2 linked regions of the Homo sapiens genome follow. The protein of the gene in region 1 purifies or fractionates together with the protein of each later gene. This does not show direct contact. Each region holds a gene or a part of one and is shown on either strand. Other genes may lie near its edges.

Region 1 (4,680 bases):
TATGCTTTAGTTGATTAAAAACATGATTAAAATTATAAATGCTATGAAACATCACCTAAAAATGTATTTTTTTTAAAAAAACGCTGTCACTCAAATCAGTCGTTAACTGCACTGAATTTGAAATTGAAATGTCCTGAATTCAGTTCTGTATACTTCATGTAATAATTGTATACATGAAATTGTATCAGAGAATGGTTCCTAAAGTCCTAAAGAGCCCTTCTGCATGTTTTATTTTTCTAAGAAATTTGTTATATGGCTGATTCCTATTACATTTCACCAGCTTTTATTTCGTTTTGTCTGTTTGATGATAGTGAAACTATAAATATAAATACCTATTCACAGGCTATTCTCTTCTTCTAGATGAAAGATCATTACACTGGGAAAGCTGCCCATAGAAAACCATAATTGAAGGCATTGCATGTGGATCCCACCAACAGGGCCACACTCACCTCGGAAGCGGTTGAGCCTGTACACCAGTCCAGTGATGGGTCCTGCAGTGAGCTCTGGATTCACAGGCTGGGGCATGTGCAGCAGCACGGACTCACTCCTGCAAGGAAGTAGGTTGAGTTGGTTAACTTTCTGATGTCTGTGTTTAAGAAACAGATTCCAACAGAAAATGCTTCATTCAAACCCACTTCTGATACCGTAATGTACCTCCACAACGCTAGGATGGGTTTGTGGCTCTTAGGGAATCTTTCTAACTATTCACTCCATTTCTAACCTACTGCCCCTGAAAGATAAATGCCTCTCTCCCTATCTGCCACCAAATAGTTTATCTCTAATTATGATTCTGAATCGCAAAAAGAGGCAACTGTATTCTAGCAACCTCTGCATTGCACTCTTCAAAACATAAACCCCTGAGTCACTTGGGAAAGTAAGAAAAGATTAATGTCTGATAAAAGGCATAGATGACATTCATCATACCACATAAACACATGACTACACACACATACACACACAATCACACTGACACATTATGGTGTTAGTAAATTATGTTTTCACTTTGTTGGAAACAGCTTGATGTTTTTCATAGCATGCCTTGTGCTCCAGTTTGCACTGACGGCCAAAAACATACCTTGCCACGATGTCTCCCAAATCCTGTAGAGAGAGAGAGAAAAAAAAAATGACTTCTTTAGAAAGTTGTTATTCTTGTTGGGTGAGGTGGTTCACACCTGTAATCCCAGCACTTTGGGAGGCCAAGGTGGGTGGAACACCTGAGGTCAGGAGTTCCAGACTAGCCTGGACAACATGGCAAATCCCCGTCTCTACTAAAAATACACACACACACACAAATAGTGGGGTGTGGTGGTTCATGCCTTTAGTCCCAGCTACTAGGGAGGCTGAGGCAGGAGAATTGCTTGAACCAAGGAGGCAGAAGTTGCAGTGAGCTGAGATTGGGCCATTGGACTTCAGTCTGGGTGACAGAAGAAGACTCTGTCTCAAAATAAACACACAAAAAAGTTGCTATTCTGCCTATCTGGTCTTTAGGTTTTCAAAACTTTAGAATTACCGTATACTATTACTGCCACTCTTTTAAAATGTATTCTCATCTCTAACAATTATACCAGTAAGACCTATTGACAATATGGATTTCTGATAAATTAAGGACCCTAAATTTGAGTGAGAGAGAAAGGTGTGAGTAGTGACTGCGCATTGCTGCAGCTGTCTACAATGTGGTCTTTTTCAGGGCTAGTCCCCAAAGTGTAATGTGGCTCAAATCAAGCATGAAATTTTTTCTTCCAGAGTTTTAATGAAATGTGCTGGAGGAGGAAGCTTGTGGTAGAAAATGTTGTATGGAAATCTAGTTGCACAATTCCATAAAGCTTTATTTCCATGATTAGCGTAGGAGTTATAGTTTATCTCTATAACCGGTGGGAATGACTCTCACCGTCAGTACAGGAGATGAGGAAATAATGTCTTTGGTACCCAATGGAAGGCAAAGATGTAAAGGTCAGCTAACACAAAGTGTCTCAAGGGGCATCCTCCATTCTTACCTGGAGCAGCTCCACATCTGGTTTATGACACATTTCCATTAGTTCCTGATACATTTCTTTCAAGTGTTTACTCTTTTGATCCATTTTGACCCAACTTCTCTGGAGTTGCTGAAAAATCTCTTGGTATTCCTTGTTCAGTCTCTCTAAATGTTGTTTTTCTTCCTTATGGAGAACCGGATGCAGCTTCCTATACTCATTCCTGATCATCTGTGCCCGTAAAACCACATTGCCCTGTAGGGATATGAATTTTGTAGGTTATATACCCAGGCCTACTTCCACCTCACAGAGCCTACAACTTCATCCTCCTCATTCCTTCTTTTATTTTCCATCCTTTACAAACAGGATGATGAGTTAAGCAAGACCTTCCTTCAAAATTTATGTAATTCATCAATTCCCAAACACCTGCAAAAAAGCCCTTTAGGTTTAAATGTTTAAATCAAATCGGAAATACAATTAGAAAACAACTAAAATTTATGATTGTTACATTGTCATGGATAATACACATAATCTTTGTTATTCACTTAGGTTGTTGTTTCAAATCTCTGTACTTCACAGCCTGAACAATCACTCTTAGTAGAAATGTTTTTAGTATATTATAATCAGGATCAGAAGCCATCACACAAAAAGGATCTTAGTAAAAAATTTAACCCCCATCTCTCAAACTGACTACCTCTTTTCTGTCTCCTATCTTTCTTCTGTCAAATCCATAGACTCTGTATTGCACTGCCATTCTAAGAACATTAATCCCCATTCCATTGTGTTTCTCCTCTCAATAATGACATATTTATCCTCTCACTGCCCCAGTCATTTTTTATCCCTTCTCCTCAGCTTTTCCTCATGTTGCATTTTCTCCTACTCGGACTGGCATCATGTGGGTCCTTTGCTATCAGATTTCACCAGCACAGGCACATTTCTTAAATTACTGTTCCCACCCGATTTCTTCCCCCTGGACAATATCATATTCACCAATAAATGCCTTTATTTCTCAATTATATACTATTTAATCAACATTTCATAATTAATTTTATACAGAAAACTCTGTCTGAAATACTTATTAATTTTAAGCACATACTTGCCCTTCAGAATTTATATTTATTTTTTACTTATCTGAAAAGCATTTACAGAAAACCTGAACAATCGTTATGTTGAACAGTCTGGTTGTTTTCCAGCCTATGAATAAACACATGACAAAATCTGGCATAAGAATTTCAACTCAAGTTGCTAATATAAATGTTGTCAGCATGCCTGTCTCAAGCTGGTCAGGAGGACTCACGGTCTCATACTTACCCTCCAGAGGAAGGCTGTTCTTCCCTCCTCATATAGATTTCTCTGATTTTCTTGAATCTTTTTCCATAAAATCCTCATTTGCTTTAAGAGTTTCTCCTGCAAAAGAATTACAAGGTTGAACAACAGAAAGTCAAATGCCAAAGATTCCACAATCTGAGTGGTATACACAGGCAAGGGATAATATATAAATACATTAGTGAGAGGAGAAAAAAACAAAATTTTTCATTGCTCATCCTTAATTGATATTTTTCAGTTTGAGGTTTCAGAATGTAGAACAGCTTAGGGAACTGAAGAGTGAAGATTTCCTGTAACCCAGCTAAATTAGTTCAGGGAAACATCCTGCTTCAGAACCCACTATGCTAGCCCCTGATTTTGTAGTGTGCTACTCCCATACTCATTTGTCCAGTAATATTAAATATATTTCCAAAATACCTTTCTTTGCACTGGTAGTTTTGGTAGCTTTTCAATGTCATTAGCATTGAACTGTAGAGTCAATAATAATGACATTTACTTAATCAGTCTCTTTTTGGGTGCAAGCTCCATGAAGGAAGGTAGAGTTGCACATTTTATTCAAAATGTCATCATTGGTACCTAGAACAGCACCTGGCACTCAGTAAAGAATGGAGTAATCACCATGATTCTCATCATCCTTCTAATATCTTTAACTCTGCCACCCTCCAGCTTTCAGGTGATCACAGAGCTATCTCTTACCCGGTGTTCCTCAGCTGCCTCTTCGATGGGATGGTGTTTGTGAGCCCCGTGCTCCTGAGAGTTGGAGCACAGCAAGCAGAGGAGACTCTTGTCCATGTCACAGAACATCTTCTTTGTTTGCCTATGGGTCCCACATATTTGTTTCTCAGAGCTCAGGAATTGCCAGAGACTGGCTTTTCTGGCAATGGTCACTAAATTCTTCAGAAGAATATTGGTTTTGAAGTCCATTTTCGGTGATGGTTCCCTGCATGCAGGGCAGTTTGCAGGACTTTGGGCTTCCTCCCACGAAAGGCAGAGACAGGGCCTACAGAAGCTGTGCCCACAGCAGATGGTGACAGGGTCTACCAGGTAGTTCAAACAGATGACGCAGGTGAGTTCCTTCTGGAAGGCATGTGAGAAGTCTGAGTCCATTTTCCTAAGGAAAGAAAACCACAGGAATTTAATCTTCTACCCTGGAGAGACAAAGATCCAAGCAAAGTTTGAATCAGATCGTGATCGAATAATATCCTTTCTTTCTAAAGAAGTATAGGCTTTAATCTGCAATGACAGAAATAGGAAAAACAGAAAACTAAGGCACAAAGAGACATCAACCTCTATAAAAAGTGACTGTTCTCCAATCAACACATGACCAGCTTTCCAAACTCTACTTTCTTGCATGGAAGAATGTCGGATTTTTTGAGGTGTTAGT
Region 2 (4,462 bases), on another chromosome or scaffold:
GAATTGAATTGCCGGACTCTCACAATCAGACAGAAGGACTATTTGAATTTCAGGCCTCCCCACTTTTCCTGATTGTCTCGGGCTAAATCCGAGGTTTTTTTCTGATGAACAACTGGGGACCCAGCACTTGCAGTTACCTGTGCGTTACCTCTTTGCAAATCACCCACATTAGAAGCACAGAGCCAGCCAGAAAGATGGTCAGTGGCAGCCACAGCAGAGCCCCTTAAGCTCCTGTCCACCACCCACTTGCTCCCAGGCCCTGGCGGGGCCCAGAGTAGAGCTGTAGCCAGGTCAGGCTGGCCTTTGCCCCTAGCGTGACCTTGGGAAATCCCCAGGCCGCATTTCTTCATATTTGCAGTTGAGTTGCTAACGCACTCACTTGAAGATCCTGTAAAACAGAAGCAGGAGCTGCCTGCCTGTCTGGCCCGCAGATTCTGAGCAAGGGGATGGGAGGGGACGTGTGGTGGAAGGGCACACCTACTGGCAGAGAGGGTAGGGGCTGTGCCACCCATGTGAAGCCAATGTACTTGGCGGGGGGACGGGGCTCTGGCCAGTCCTGGGCCCTCAGATGCCTGCAGAGGAAGGGCTGGGTGGGTGTTTGGGAGGCCGGCATGCAGTCCCCAGGAAGCTCCTCCACCTGGAGAGAGAACAGTGCCCAGAGCGGGAGAGTGGATTCCTCATTTTTGGATGGCATTTCTACTATGTTCTGTTGAGTCTCAGATCCACTTCCCAGAGAGTCCCCGGTCCTGTTGCCTGAGTGCTCAGTCCTAGGTCAGAGTCAGTCGCAGTGAGTCCAGCTTCTAAGAGGACACGGCCAGGCTTCCAGGGTCCCCTGTGTGGAGCTGGCTGGCAGGTGTGCTGCAGTGAACTGGACCTGCTCCTGGATTCCCTGGTCTTTGCCTGCCTTTGAAGAGAGAAAAAAGGCTGTAAAATGCCAACTGGAGGGAGTGACTGTTCTGACACCCCTGATGGGGGCCTCTGCATTGTCTCTGCGCTGCCCCTCCCATCCCCCTGCAAACAGCCCTCGAGGCTGATTCTTCGCTCTCCCTGGAATGCAGATGCCACGTGAAAATGAATCAAAAAGGGCAGCGCGGGCAGCGCTTCCAGGCCCAGCTCCTCAGCGCGGTGTCTCTCCTCCGTGCCAGCGCCAAAGCCTTGGCATCGTCTCTCTTCCTATATTTCTATGCCAGGAAGAAGCAGCCCACCACCTGAACAGCAGAGGAAAAGAGTACATCGGCTCAGGCGCTCCAGAGTGCCAGCAAGACAGCTTGCGCCACACGGGGGGGCCAGAGGGGGACTTGGAGATCATCTGGGGATTTCAGGAAAGAACATTCTCTAGGCGCTTCTGAGGCATTGGACGAATATGGCCACAGTGGTGTGAGGGGCCAGGAGCCCCATGCCAGGACACCCACCCACACCACATAGCCATTGCCCTAGGAACCTGGACTTGCCCGTTTCAAAGACTGGGAGGCCAAAGAAAAACCTGGCCGGCTCAGGACGCTGACCCATCGGGGCAGAGCGAAGTGAGTGCGCAGCATGGTTTTCAGCTGCAGCTCACTCCTGCAGGGAAGCCTCACGCTTAACGCCAGTGGGCTTAACCCAGCTCAGCCTGGCTGCCCCTCAGGATGAAAGGCAAGTTCTGAACGCAGTCTGAGCAAAGGCCCGTGGGCGCTCCCAGTCTCCTAGCATGGAATGCATGTAGCTCTGGAAGTCATTCCTGTGTCTGGAGGGTTTTCCGGAAGCTGCCTTGTGCCTTGTTGTGGGTACTCGCTGTGTCTTGCAGAGGATGGGACAGTGGTCCTCGTGGCGCCAGGGCCGAGCTGTTCCCAGTTCCCCGGGACTATAGACAGAAATATGTATATTTGGTGGTGGTTTTTTTTTTTTGGTAACAGCTATACTGAGATGTAATTCACATACAATTTAGCCCTTTAACGTGTACGATTCGGTGGTTTCAGTCAATTCAGAGTTGTGTAGTTGTCACCACAATCAATTTTGGAACATTTTTATCACTCTCAAAAGAAACCCTGTACCCTTCAGCAGTGACTCCCCTTCCCTCTTCAACCCCAGGCAACCTCGAGTCTGTCTGTAGAGATCTGCCTATTCTGGACATTTCAGGTAAGTGGAAAACATTCCAATTTCCGAACACCTCTGTTAGTGGCAGAGCCAGACTCAGAGATCCCCAGGGTAGGCCCCGCCGCCAGGGTCCCCACTTCTCCAGGGTCAGGGATTTTTTTTTTTTCCAACGAGGACTTTATGAGAGAGAGAATGGCTTTTCTCTACTGTTCCTAAAGATGAGCTTGGAATAGGAAACATTAGAGATTGTTGCTGCTGTTCATAGACACATATTTTGGGGCATTTGACAAAGAATTTCTTAATGGCTTCATTCCTAAGTGTTAATGCAAAATTAGAATGCTTTTAAAACTTCTGCCCATTTTTGTTTTCCAGGTAGCAGAAGGTCAAGAAATTTGTGTGATTGAAGCCATGAAAATGCAGAATAGTATGACAGCTGGGAAAACTGGCACGGTGAGTCCCTAAGTCCCCATCAGCCCAGGCCGGCCCTGTGATGGAGGAACGCCCACCTTTGAATCGTGGGTGGTTTGGCTGGAAAGGGCCACAGAGGCGCCCTCTCCCCCTCGCTTCTACAGAGGAGGACGTTAGGATTGGGAGCTTTTGCCATTCTGCCCTGATGCATCCCTGCCTCGTAGAGAGCGTGGCTTCCAAAAAGTCTGTGCTTTATGTTCAGGTAGTCAAAGAACAATTGTTCTTCACCTTAATGTCTTTCTTTCAAATTAAGGGGTCTTTAATTTTTAATGTTTACATCTGTCTTGAAGGCAGTTAGTTATCTGAGACTTAGGTGACACAGCAGCAAATGGTTTTACAAATTGCAAAAATTAATGTAACTCTTCAAGACAATTTCTCTACAAAGGGAACAATTCAGTTGCAGATCAAGAGAAGCCAAAACCCCATGTACATGTGGGACTTAATTATTTAGGGAGAAAAAAATATTAGTACTGAAATTCATTCATAGTGAAACTTAAGTGTATTTTTTTCTTGAAGATAGAAAAGTCCTTTTAAGCAGTAACTTCATTATTCTTCCTGTGACTAAAAAGACTGAAAAGATGCCGTTAGTAGGTAAATGATCCTTTTGTGAGGGCCGTTGTGGTTTGGAAGTGTCTGCATGGGAGAGCATGATGGGAAGCGCAAGGCTGGCCGTGTTCTGCATGTGGCCATGCCTTGGGGACATCAGGTGCAAAGAGAGATCCATCAGTTCATAACCAGGTTTGCATCAGAGAGACACACAACCTCTGTCTCATGCTCTGTCACTGCAGAAGGCAATGAAATGGATTCTCAGAGAAGGGGCAGCGGGGATGTCATGCCTGGTCCCGGCTGGGAGAACAGAGGCCCAGGTGTATGCCAGGGGCTCCTGAGCCCAGCCCGCCGGTCTGGAGGGGTGTGGACAGTTGCACTGTGCTGGTATGGTGTGAAGAGTAGAATGACATGATTTGTGGCGTTTTTAAGGAATTCTTTCTAAATTACTTCTTTAAAAAGTGAACAAGAAAATGTTGGTTTCTGTTCATGTAAAAATTTTATCTGTTCTTTGGGATTTAACATTTGTGCTGCCCTAGTATCACGACATCCATCCATGATGAGAACTTGGCCTAGGTGTGGGGGACCGAGAACGTGTGTCCGCCGCATGCCAAGGGCCCTGTGCGGCAGGTCTGAGGTGCTAATGCAGAAATGACCTTGGCCTCATCAGTTCCCTGAAGGGGCATGGTGCCATGTGGTAGTAGGTTTCCTGTCCTCGTGGCCTGGGTCTCCCTCGGCCCTCCTAGTTGGAGTCTTCCTGTGCATTCTGTTCACCTCACCCCATCCCCAGGCCTCTCAGTTCCAACCCAGCCAAGAAGAGCAGAAGTGGCCCGAAGCCCCCGTGCAAAGTAGCAGGCCCTGGTTCCTACCTGCGAGGCCACTTTTCCTCCCAGAGAAAAAAAGTTCACAAAGGAAACAGATCCTCTACTCTGGTCATCGCTGCATCACTAACACTGCGTCCTCTAGTAGGGCTGCTAAATGGAGGCAGGAGCATTGTGGAAAGCAGCCTTTTCAGTCCAAGCAGCATCTGCAGTGGCCGATGAGTTCTAATCCATTTTTCATTTTCAGGCCCAAGCAAGAGCCTCCAAGAAGTCAAATGACTGTCTCTTCCCCACCTCAAGCCCCTCCTTGCTAATTTTAAGTCAGAACACAAATTTCGGAAAGCAAAACTTGATAAAGATTGACTGAAACCGGTAGGACAAAAAGGCACAGTTCCACCCACCCATGGTGCTGGAAAGGGCGACCGCACAGCCCCACCTGCCAAGGACTCCATTTCCCTTCAGAAAATGGAGGTCAGGCCAGGGAGGTCCTCCTCTTACTCAGCAGCTGATCTGACTGTCGTGTGTTTTGTTCCTTTTTTTCTTTTACACTAAGT

The links. Proteins that work in one complex are often made in the same cells at the same time.
Region 2: the proteins of TRIM43 (region 1) and PCCA purify together in Homo sapiens (affinity purification with mass spectrometry; one large-scale study listed by BioGRID and IntAct). This does not show direct contact.

The regions. Positions count from the first base shown.
Region 1 is NC_000002.12:95,593,747-95,598,426, reverse strand, and holds part of TRIM43 (tripartite motif-containing protein 43), read right to left. Parts: intron 4,408-4,680; 5' UTR 4,404-4,407; coding exon 3,993-4,403; intron 3,378-3,992; coding exon 3,282-3,377; intron 2,226-3,281; coding exon 1,995-2,225; intron 1,099-1,994; coding exon 1,076-1,098; intron 548-1,075; coding exon 450-547; intron 1-449.
Region 2 is NC_000013.11:100,525,230-100,529,691, forward strand, and holds part of PCCA (propionyl-CoA carboxylase alpha chain, mitochondrial isoform a precursor), read left to right. Parts: intron 1-2,445; coding exon 2,446-2,523; intron 2,524-4,462. UniProt on the Homo sapiens protein: This is one of the 2 subunits of the biotin-dependent propionyl-CoA carboxylase (PCC), a mitochondrial enzyme involved in the catabolism of odd chain fatty acids, branched-chain amino acids isoleucine, threonine, methionine, and valine and other metabolites.